Linked DNA regions of Homo sapiens. The protein of the gene in region 3 interacts with the protein of the main gene of each other region in a pairwise test. Each region holds a gene or a part of one and is shown on either strand. Other genes may lie near its edges. The genes, in order: CROT, LRRC56 and CYCS.

Region 1 (3,751 bases), about 62 Mb from region 3:
ACTTTGAAATTTTTGAACTATTTCTTCAGTTTTCTTATATTCTTCTTGATTTGCAAATGGTTTCACTAGAAAGGAAAAATACGTATTAAGGTATTTAGACCAAGTACCACCAACTCACCTCTATTATTACTAACTTATGCAAATCTTAAGACTCAGATATGTAAAACACAGTACTGTATTAAATAGCAGAGCAGAACAATAAAATTAAGAGTTGACAACATGAAAGTGGCGGAAAAGAAACAAAAGATTTGGAAATCCTTGCTTGAGAGAATGGGATTAGCAAGTCGGGAGGGAGCCAGGGAGATGGGCAAAGGACTGCATTTTTCATCACAAGCCTATTTACACTATCTGGCTTTTCAAACTCTGGAAAAATTAACATAAAGAGAGAAAAAAAGTTGGATATTTTAAGGACATGGTTGACTCGAACAACACGAGTTTGAACTGCACAGGTCCATTTATACCTAATAAAAGTTGATAATGAGTGTGCTTGCCTCTCCTGTCCCTACTTCCACCTCCTCTACCACCTCTGAGACAGCAAGACCAGTCCCTCCTCTTCCTCCACCTACTCAACATGAAAACCATCAGGATGAAGATTTTTATGATGATCTACTTCCACTTAATGGATAATAAATATATTTTTCTCTTCCTTATCATTTTTTAATAACATTTGCTTTACTCTAACTTAAATAATTCAGAAAATAATACATATAACATAAAATTATCTGTTAATCAACTGTTTACGTTATAAAGTTGTACTTGAATTTCTTTTCTTTTTTTTTTTTTTTTTTTGAGATGGAGTCTCGCTCTGTCGCCCAGGCTGGAGTGCAGTGGCGTAATCTCAGCTCACTGCAAGCTCCGCCTCCTGGGTTCACACCATTCTCCTGCCTCAGCCTCCCGAGTAGCTGGGAATACAGGCGCCCGCCACCACTCCTGGCTCTTTTTTTTTTTTGTATTTTTAGTAGAGACGGGGTTTCACTGTGTTAGCCAGGATGGTCTCGATCTCCTGACCTCGTGATCTACCTGCCTCCGCCTCCCAAAGTGCTAGGATTACAGGCGTGAGGCACTGCGCACGGCCTGTACTTGGATTTTCTAATACACATGGGTCAGCACCACCAGCCCTGCATTGTTCAAGAGTCACCTATACTTTATTACAAGTCTAGATAAAGAAGCAATTAAACCTTCAACTTCTAACAGTGTTGTTAAGGAAGCAGGAGCTTAGGAGAGCCAGAGTAATGCCGTTTTAATTTCAGCTCCATCTGGAGACTAACAAGGCACAATTCCTTGCTGGTCATGACCCACATTAAGAAGATATTTACAGTTGAGTGAACAGCCTACAGATACCTACAAGGACACACTCCTAAACAGCAGAAAGTCCAGGTATCCCAATACCCATAACAATATATGTTTTCAAGATAATTACAGTTATGTTTGGATGTATTTACACACTAAAATGTCAAGGATAGTTTTATTTAAATCAATAGAATAATAAATTGTGTCATGTTGTCTGCTCACCCACATGTAGACGTAGCTTAGTTTAGTCTTTACATAGATAAAGGCTCTATATAAGAAAAACTTAAAATAAGGATGGTGCCTTCCTTTGCTTGCCCTCTGAGGACGCTCTACTCCGCAATGGAGTAGCTTTCAATAAGCTGTCTCTTCTCACTGCACTCTGCAACTCACCTTGAATTCCTTCCCGCGTGAGATCCAAGAACCCTCTCTTAGCATCTGGATCAAGACCCCTTATCTGGTAGCATGTTCTGGTGACTACAAAGGGACATTAGGATGAGATCCCATGCTGAGGAGATTCAGCCTGCACAGCACTAATTGGCCACCTCTGATAAATGGGGTCTGTCTTGGCATCCTATCAAGGATAATATTTCTAGCCCAATGGGGTTAGAGTCTCTAGGGTATAATATTTGGGTTAGAGTCCCAGCCCAATGGGGTGAGAGTCCCTGGGGTATAATAAAAATTAAAGTAGCCTTGCAAGATGTACGCCAGTATATGCTTTGGACTAATCCACTTTGTCCCCTTTGCCAGATATGGGAAAGCTATACTTCTCATCACTTCCCAACTTGTTGCCTTTGCTTTACTGCAGCTTTACAGTGGCCCCTATGGCCAGCCCAGAGGTTTACTGCATTCACTTTCCACACTTGCCTTCTGACTGTCACCTTTTCGTTTGCTTTGTCATGTCTCAGGATAGCATGGGGAACCTGAGGACTTACAAGATTTGTTCTTGATATATATATTTTGAGACAGAGTCTCGCTCTATCACCCAGGCTGGAGTGCAATGGTGCAATCTTGGCTCACAGCAACCTCCGCCTCCCAGGTTCAGGCGATTCTCCTGCCTCAGCCTCCCAAGTAGCTAGAATTACAGGTGCCCACCACCACGCCCAGCTAATTTTTGTATTTTTAGTAGAGACAAGGTTTCACCATCTTGGCCAAGCTGGTCTTGAATCCTGACCTCAGGTGATCTGCCCACTTTGGCCTCCCAAAGTACTGGGATTACAGACGTGAGCCACTGTGCCCAGCCTGTTCTTGCTATATCTTAAACATTGCAGGACTCAGATGCTTTTACACCCCATGTTAAAACAGGCAGCAATCTTTATCTGCTTGCCCCCTGTGGAAACCTGGAGTCTCATTCTCTTATCTGAAGCTTCAGCCTGTTATCATTCTGGTGGTTACTTTTGCCCTGCAACTATGAAATTAAACAGAGTCTTCTAAAGCTCTCTATTTTTCTCTTCTTTTCTGCCTGATTTGAATCTGTTATTATTAGTCTACTAGTATTGAAATAAAACTTGATGTTTAGGTTACTTAGAGATTTTGTTTTTCTTGTACAGTTCAACCAGAACTGTAAAAGAAATGTACATGTTAGAAACTCATTTGAAACTGAAAAACAAAATGTGAAAAGGCAAAACAAACAAACAAAAACAAAAATAAAAAACCCTCAAACTTTCATGAAGACTACTTTACCCAAAATTTTGGTCTATGGCTTTCCTGGCATGACTCACTGGATATCTGAGTCATTTCCAATTAAGAAATGTTTATAATATGGGAAACATGTTTCTAAAATGTTGGCAGCCTGGGCAACATGGTGAAACCCCATCTCTACAAAAGATACAAAAATTAGCAGGGCATGGTGGCACCTGCCTGCAGTCTCAGCTACTCAGGAGGCTGAGGTTGGAGGATCACCTGAGCTGGGGAGGTCAAGGCTGCAGTGACCTGTGACTACACCACTGCACTCCAGCCTGGGTAACAGTGAGATCTCATCTCAGAAAAATAAAATAAAATAAAATTGTGGAATGATTTTATCTATAAAATGCTAACATCTGACAAATAGTTCTAGGTTTCTTGCTTCCTAAGTTTTTGGATTCATGTATAGGTGAGTGCTCTTTGTTGTCTCTTCCATTCCCTTTGTTGTCCCTTTTCCTTTCTGCAATATACTTTGCAATATACTCAGCCTTCTAGGCCCCAGGAGACACAGGAATACTCATATTCCCCAGGTTGAGGTTAGAGGCCCCACCCAGAGTTGGATAACCTATTTGAGTCTCAGAGTTGTATTTGTCAGTACCTACTGTTTCTTAATCGGCTGTTATTTGCTGTCTGTGTCTCGCTAGTGACACATGTCGCCCTGTGCTTGCATGCCCTGAAGTTTACACCTGTCATTTTTTTCTGGTCTTGATGATTTTCATTCTTTGGGTTATTTAATTCAGCATCTCTCAATTGAGGGAAGTGAACATTCTCCAAGTTGAAA
Region 2 (3,751 bases), on a different chromosome or scaffold from region 3:
CCCAGCCAAGCTAGGAGCCTTCTCTAGGCTCGGGGTGGGGGTGGGTGCCAAGGGCTTGCTGTGACGGGGGCGGGGGGTTGAGGGCTGGGCCAGGGTCTCAGCCGGGCTGCAGAGGAGGAGGAGCAACAGCGTGGAGCTTTGCACTGTGCCTCTGTCAGCAGGTGACATGTGAATGGATCTGGGCTGGGACAGATCCCGTGGGCCTCGGCGGAGCACCTCCAGCGTCCGGGTGCGGGAGCTGAGCTGGCAAGGCCTGCACAACCCCTGCCCACAGAGCAAGGGCCCTGGCAGTCAGAGGGACAGACTTGGAGAGCAGCTGGTGGAAGAGTACCTGTCCCCTGCCCGGCTGGTGAGTGTGGGCGCTGGGGGCTGTGGCCACAGAGGCCTCCGTGGGGTGACATCCCAGGGCTCCTTCCTGCTGATGGTCCAGCCTGCCCTCTGTCCCCCTCCTGCTGGTCTTGCCTGCTGATGGTTGGCCTCAGCCCAGCCCCTGCAGCTGGGTCTGCTCCACCCACTCTGCCCTTGGGACCCCTACCAGGCCCCAAAACACCAGCAACACCAGGTGCTCAGTGACACAGACGTCCCCAGGCATTTGGGTCACAGACAGGACTGAGCCAGGCCAGAACCCACAAGTAGGGGCTGAGCATCCATTATCCTCCAACCAAAGAGGGGGGTCCTTCACTCAAGCGGGAGACCAGATGGCTCAAAGCTCAGGGCAGGGCCCGGCGCGGTCCGGGCTCTGGGTGCCGGGTGTGGTGTGTCTGCCCTGGGAGTCTCTCTGGAGACGGGCAGCCCCCAGGGCAGGTCCTTCTCCCGCAATGACCCCCCAGCCAAGTGCAGCACAAGCTCTGCTCCTGTCACATCCACTCCCATCCCACCACCCAGGCCAGGGCCAACATGGCCCAGGCAGGGAAACGTCGGTGCCTGCTCCAGCGGGAGCCCCAGAGTCCTGTAGCCAGAAGCAAGGATGGAACTAAAGTGGGGAGAGCCAGGACCAGCGCTGACCCCCGGTTGGTTTCTACAGCAGGCCCTGGCCCGGGTGGATGACCTTCGGCTGGTGAGGACGCTGGAGATGTGTGTGGACACTCGTGAGGGCAGCCTGGGGAACTTTGGTGAGCCTCTTCCCACCCCGCCATGGCCACGGCCACGGCCACGCCTCCCTGTAAACAACACACGTTTCCTGGTTATGACGACAAAGCTGTCCTCACCTCTCGGGCCGCGTATCGGCTTCCTTAGGGTTGGCCTCTGACCTGAGGTCTGTGTCAGGTACAGGCAGAGGGCAATGCACTCAGCACCCCGCACACCACACCAGTACCCCCAGCACGCTCAGTACCCCACACACCCACACCAGTACCCCCAGCACGCTCAGTACCCCACACACCCACGCCAGTACCCCCGGCACGCTCAGTACCCCACACACCCACGCCAGTACCCCCGGCACGCTCAGTACCCCACACACCCACGCCAGTACCCCCGGCACGCTCAGTACCCCACACACCCACGCCAGTACCCCCGGCACGCTCAGTACCCCACACACCCACGCCAGTACCCCCGGCACGCTCAGTACCCCACACACCCACGCCAGTACCCCCGGCACGCTCAGTACCCCACACACCCACGCCAGTACCCCCGGCACGCTCAGTGCCCCACACACCCACGCCAGTACCCCCGGCACGCTCAGTGCCCCACACACCCACGCCAGTACCCCCGGCACGCTCAGTGCCCCACACACCCACGCCAGCATCACAGAGGAACAAAGGCCAAAATGGTGCTGAGTGCCACTTGGTGTCTCCTGAAACTCATCTTGAAATAATCTCAGCCAGGCACAGGGGCCACGCCTGTAATCCCAGCACCGTGGGAGTCCAAGGTGGATGGATCACTTGAGCCCAGGAGTTTGAGATCAGCTTGGGCAACATAGCAAGACCCCTGTGTCTAAAAATAAAAAATTAGACAGGCATGATGGCACCTGTAGTCACAGCTACTCATAGGAGGTGGGGAGGTCAAGCTGCAGTGAGCTGAGATTGCACCGCTGCACTCCAGACTGGGCGACAGAGCAAAACCCTGTCGCAAAAAAAAAAAAAAAAAAAAAAAACACTCCCTCCCCGCCCTCCGCCAGGTTCCTTCTCTTTCGCCGTGTTCACGGTGGTGCTGGCCCCTGCTCCCTCCCGTGCGTGCACAGCGCGTCAGGCCACTGTTCTTTTTCCTGAACTAGTTGAGAGTTGGACATGCAACACCCCTTTATCTACTGACACTTCAGTGTGTATTTCCTGAGAGGGAGGACATTCCCTTAAATGCAGTGCGATGGCCAAAGTCAGGAATTACACCTGTACATGACTCTTAGCCATGCTGAAGACCATATTCAAATGTCACCAGCTGTCCCAACAGTGACTTTTTTTTTTTTGAGATGGAGTCTCATTCTGTCGCCCAGGCTGGAGTGCAGTGGCGCAATCTCAGCTCACTGCAACCTCTGCCTCCCAGGTTGAATTTTCCTACCTCAGCCTCCCGAGTAGCTGAGATTACAGGCACTCACCACCACGCCCAGCTGATTTCTGTATTTTTAGTAGAGACGGGGTTTCACCATGTTGGCCAGGCTGGTCTTGAACTCCTGACCTCAAGTGATCCACCCACCTCAGCCTCCCAAAGTGCTGGGATTACAGGATTACAGGGATGAGCCACCGCGCCTGGCCTGTTTTTTGTTTTTTTCATTGTTGTTTTTTTTAAGACAGAGTCTCTCTCTTGTTGCCCAGGCTGGAGTGCAGTGGTGCAATCTTGGCTCACTGCAACCTCAGCCTCTTGAATTCAAGCAATTCTCCTGCCTCAGCCTCCTGAGTAGCTGGGATTACAGGTGTGTGCCACCACGCCCGAGTAATTTTTGTATTTTTAGTACAGATGGGGTGTCACCATGTTGGCCAGGCTGGTCTTGAACTCCTGACCTCAGGTGATCCACCCGCCTCGGCCTCCCAAAGTGCTGAGATTATAGGTGTGAGCCACCACGCCAGGCCCCACAGTGACCTTTAGAGCAGGGAAGCGTCTTCCCACCCAGGATCACTGGCTGTCTGCATTTCTCCAACTGACTGAGGTGAACCAGGCCCATCTTGATTGGTCTTGTATTGTTTTGCAATGGCCTGTGAAGTCCCTGACCATTGTGTGTGGCTAACCCGCAGCCATCTGCACTCACTCGAGCCCTTCCCACAGGCATGGTCTTGGAGCGCCTGTACCCACACACTCTGCGCCCCTTCTTTTATTTTTTTTTTGAGACGGAGTCTCGCTCTGTCACCCAGGCTGGAGTGCAGTGGCGCAATCTCGGCTCACTGCAAGCTCCACCTCCCGGGTTCACGCCATTCTCCTGCCTCAGCCTCCCGTGTAGCTGGGACTACAGGCGCCCGCCACCATACCCGGCTAATTTTTTGTATTTTTAGTAGAGACGGGGTTTCACCGTGTTAACCAGGATGGTCTCGATCTACTGACCTAGTGATCCACCCACCTCAGCCTCCCAAAGTGCTGGGATTACAGGCGTGAGCCACCGCACCCAGCCACTCTGCAACCCTTCTCACAATGCAGGGATTCTGTCTGCCTCACAGGGGCATATGCCCCATCCTACAAAAGACTCCGAACGCAGAGCCTTTTCCTGGGGCCTTGGGCTGTGCAGAAACACAGGCTGGGGCGTGCAGTGATCTGGTCCTGTGTTGTGTGTGGGACTGTGCATGACGGTCTGAGATGCCAGGGGAGGGGTGTGGAGGCAGCTTGGGGG
Region 3 (3,751 bases):
TATCCTAGAATAGTACATCCAGTGAAAATATCCTTCAGATGTGAGGGAGAAATAAAGACTTTCCCAGGCAAACAGAAGCTGAGGGATTTCATCAACACCAGACCTGTCCTACAAGAAATGCTAAAGGGAGTTCCTCAGTCTGAAAGAAAAGGACATTCGTAAGCAATAAGAAACCACCTGAAGGTACAAAACTCACTACTAATAGTAAGTACACAGAAAAACACACAATATTATAATACTGTAATTGTGTGTAAACTGTTCATATCTTGAGTAGAAAGACTTAGAGATTAACCTAACTTATCAAAAATAATAGCTATAACAACTTTTCAAGACATAGTATAATAATATATAAATAGAAACAAGAAAAAGTTTTAAAAGTGGGGAGAGTGAAGTTAAAGTGCAGAGTTTTTCTTAGTTTTCTCTTTGATTTTTGTTTATGCAATCAATGTTATGTTGTCATCAGTTTAAAACAATGGGTTATAAAATATTATTTGCCCTGGGCGTGGTGGCTCACACCTGTAATCCCAGCACTTTGGGAGGCCGATGCGGGTGAATCACCTGAGGTCAGGAGTTCGAGACCAGCCTGACCAAATAGTGAAACCCCATCTCTACTAAAAATACAAAAATTAGCTGGGCGTGGTGGTTTGCTCCCGTAGTCCCAGCTACTTGGGGGGCTGAGACATTAAATGGCGCCACTGAAGAAGAATGAATAAGGTCTAGTAATACAACAGGGTGACTACACTCAACAATAATTTATTGTACATTAAACAAACTAAAAGTATAATTGGATTGCTTGTAACAGAAAAAAAGGATAAATGCTTGAGGTGATGGATAGACCGTTTACCCTGATGTGATTATTATACATTGTATGCCTGTATCAAAATATCTCATGTACCTCTTAAGTATATATATATATTTACCTACTTCGTACTCATAAAAATTTTAAAAGGTACATAAATGTTATCATTGCATCCTCTTAATTTTATTTTTCAGTTCCAGAGGGATAATCCTGTCTCTGCCGCAAATGCAGCACCTTCCTCAGTCTTGGGGCGTCCATCAAGCGGAGAGCTGGAATGTGACTGAAAGTAACAGAGTATAGGTGGAACTAGAACAAGGTCACGAGCTGGTGCCCAACTCGTGTAACTCCTGGTTCCAGGCTGTCCCTCTAGGATGCTGTTGGCGCCAGCCGTGGTAGTAGGACAGAGTCTGGGTAAAGGTCGCCTGCTGACAAGATGGTAGCTAGGAGACCTCTAGGTGCGCCAAAATTAGGGCGTCTTTTCCTGGACCGGCAAAACGCCCTGCTCAAAGCTCATTACATCACCACGCCCAAGAACTGATACTTTAGCAGGGCAACGCACCAACCAAGCGACTCCGCCCCACCCTCCCCGCTCCTCCAGCACACGCAAGCGCACAGAGGCCCGCGAGTGACGTCACCTCTCCCGACACCACCTCGTTGTCGTACGACCAAAGGCCTGTCGTAACGGCCGGGAAAAGCCTCGAGAAGAAGGGCACGCACGCCGTACACCCTAACATGCTCGCCAGCATGCGCGCGCAGGTCCTTGGCGCAGGCATTGGGACTGGAGCCAATGAGGTGCGGCGACGTTACTGCGTAGCCGCCAGCTCGGCCGCACGTCAGGGCGCGGGAGCGCGGAGCGAGTTTGGTTGCACTTACACCGGTACTTAAGCGCGGACCGGCGTGTCCTTGGACTTAGAGAGTGGGGACGTCCGGCTTCGGAGCGGGAGTGTTCGTTGTGCCAGCGACTAAAAAGAGGTGAGAGCGGGTCGCGGAGGCCGCACCTGGTTAGAGGCAGAGCTGTGGGAGGCGCGCACTTGCGAGCGACCGAAACCCAAGCGGGGAGCATTCGAGTGGAGCCCGCGCTGGGTGGGAGGGCGGGGAGTGAAGACCCTGGACTGTGGTCAGACCGAGCTGGGCGAGTAACGGCTTGAGGTGCGGCGGAGCCCTAACTAGGGACAGGTATGGTCTCGGTCAGGGACTGGAGGCGGCTTGGATACAGATCCGAGGAGGAGGCGGCCTCTTCCGTAGTGGTTGCTGAAGGGCTATGGAAATGATAGGCAAGACTTCCCTCCTGGAAAGCCGAAGCTTAGAGCTTCACGTTCTTCTTCAGAGGGCAAAAGCTGTTGCTCTTCTAATAAGGGGCCAGTTCTTTTCGTGGGCACATGTTTCTTCCGTCAGTCGTTCTGACATCCTAGAAGGAGTTTCATCAATCACCTTGAAACCGACCTGGACGGGTGACCTCGTGGTCGCCCCAGGAGATCACAGGTAGGGGAGTTGGGATGTCCCCGGGGGACCGTGCAGCCTGCCCCTGAGCTCCCATTCACAAGTTCGAGTGTCAAGCTACTCCTGTGACCTGGGCAGATAGAAACAGCCAGGACCGCTTTTTAAACATTTGTGTGCTTTGCGTTATCCTCAGGGAGAGGTGGCTTTACATTGTAGTAAGATTAAATGGTTAGGTCTTTTTAAAAGTTGCGGTTGTGGTGATTTTGGCTTAATGTGTTCGCCCTTGAGCTTCAGATCTGTGACTTCGTGACCATGATTGTCTCTTCTGAAACTGGAGTTTGAATTAGGTTCCCTCTTTGCTTGGGCTTTAACGTTCCTTCACGTATACACACAAAAATACGTTTTTGAGGAGGTACTCCTAAAAATGTTTTTGGTATTAAAGAATATTTGGTATAAAGAGTATTAAAGCAAAACAAGATTCATTCTGGTATTTAATGACATAAATTAGCAATGGATTGGTAATTAAGTGGCTAGAGTGGTCATTCATTTACACTGTATTTGTTACCTGAGGAAAAATTTACTAAGTTGAAGCTTTCGTTTTTAGAATTAAATATGGGTGATGTTGAGAAAGGCAAGAAGATTTTTATTATGAAGTGTTCCCAGTGCCACACCGTTGAAAAGGGAGGCAAGCACAAGACTGGGCCAAATCTCCATGGTCTCTTTGGGCGGAAGACAGGTCAGGCCCCTGGATACTCTTACACAGCCGCCAATAAGAACAAAGGTAAGAGTCACTTGTTAAATAAAACAACACAAAATGCAGGAATATAACATGTGGCAAACTATCAGGAGTGTGAAATAACCGATGCATTCTTTCTTGTTTAGGCATCATCTGGGGAGAGGATACACTGATGGAGTATTTGGAGAATCCCAAGAAGTACATCCCTGGAACAAAAATGATCTTTGTCGGCATTAAGAAGAAGGAAGAAAGGGCAGACTTAATAGCTTATCTCAAAAAAGCTACTAATGAGTAATAATTGGCCACTGCCTTATTTATTACAAAACAGAAATGTCTCATGACTTTTTTATGTGTACCATCCTTTAATAGATCTCATACACCAGAATTCAGATCATGAATGACTGACAGAATATTTTGTTGGGCAGTCCTGATTTAAAACTAAGACTGGCTTGTGGTTAAATGAATATGTTCAGTTTTTGAATTTTAATAGTAACTCCAATTCAGTAAATGGTATCACTGTTTACCCCTTTTAAAGATATGATTAGACTTCGTTAGTAATGTTCAACTTTTCACAAAGATGGTGAGTGCCATCTTAAAACTTACTGGAGATTGGTTTTATATTTAGATTTATATAACTGGTTATGTGAATATATTTAAATACTGGGGAAATTGCTTCACTGTCTTAGAACCAAGCAAGATTCACCTGTGTTTTGTGTTCATGTTCATTTGCCTCTTAAAGGCAAGGGTTGAAGATAAATAAGGTAGCAATGTCTATA

What was found.
Region 1: the proteins of CYCS (region 3) and CROT interact in binary tests that used the Homo sapiens proteins (3 or more experiments, as listed by UniProt).
Region 2: the proteins of CYCS (region 3) and LRRC56 interact in binary tests that used the Homo sapiens proteins (3 or more experiments, as listed by UniProt).

Annotation. Positions count from the first base shown.
Region 1 is NC_000007.14:87,355,520-87,359,270, reverse strand, and holds part of CROT (peroxisomal carnitine O-octanoyltransferase), read right to left. Parts: intron 1,765-3,751; coding exon of another isoform or gene 1,681-1,764; intron 66-1,680; coding exon 1-65. UniProt on the Homo sapiens protein: Beta-oxidation of fatty acids. The highest activity concerns the C6 to C10 chain length substrate. Converts the end product of pristanic acid beta oxidation, 4,8-dimethylnonanoyl-CoA, to its corresponding carnitine ester.
Region 2 is NC_000011.10:540,513-544,263, forward strand, and holds part of LRRC56 (leucine-rich repeat-containing protein 56), read left to right. Parts: intron 1-158; exon of another isoform or gene 159-161; 5' UTR 162-172; coding exon 173-349; intron 350-1,024; coding exon 1,025-1,112; intron 1,113-3,751. UniProt on the Homo sapiens protein: Required for the assembly of dynein arms.
Region 3 is NC_000007.14:25,123,220-25,126,970, reverse strand, and holds the start of CYCS (cytochrome c), read left to right. Parts: upstream 1-1,710; 5' UTR 1,711-1,771; intron 1,772-2,843; 5' UTR 2,844-2,851; coding exon 2,852-3,020; intron 3,021-3,121; coding exon 3,122-3,270; 3' UTR 3,271-3,751. UniProt on the Homo sapiens protein: Electron carrier protein. The oxidized form of the cytochrome c heme group can accept an electron from the heme group of the cytochrome c1 subunit of cytochrome reductase.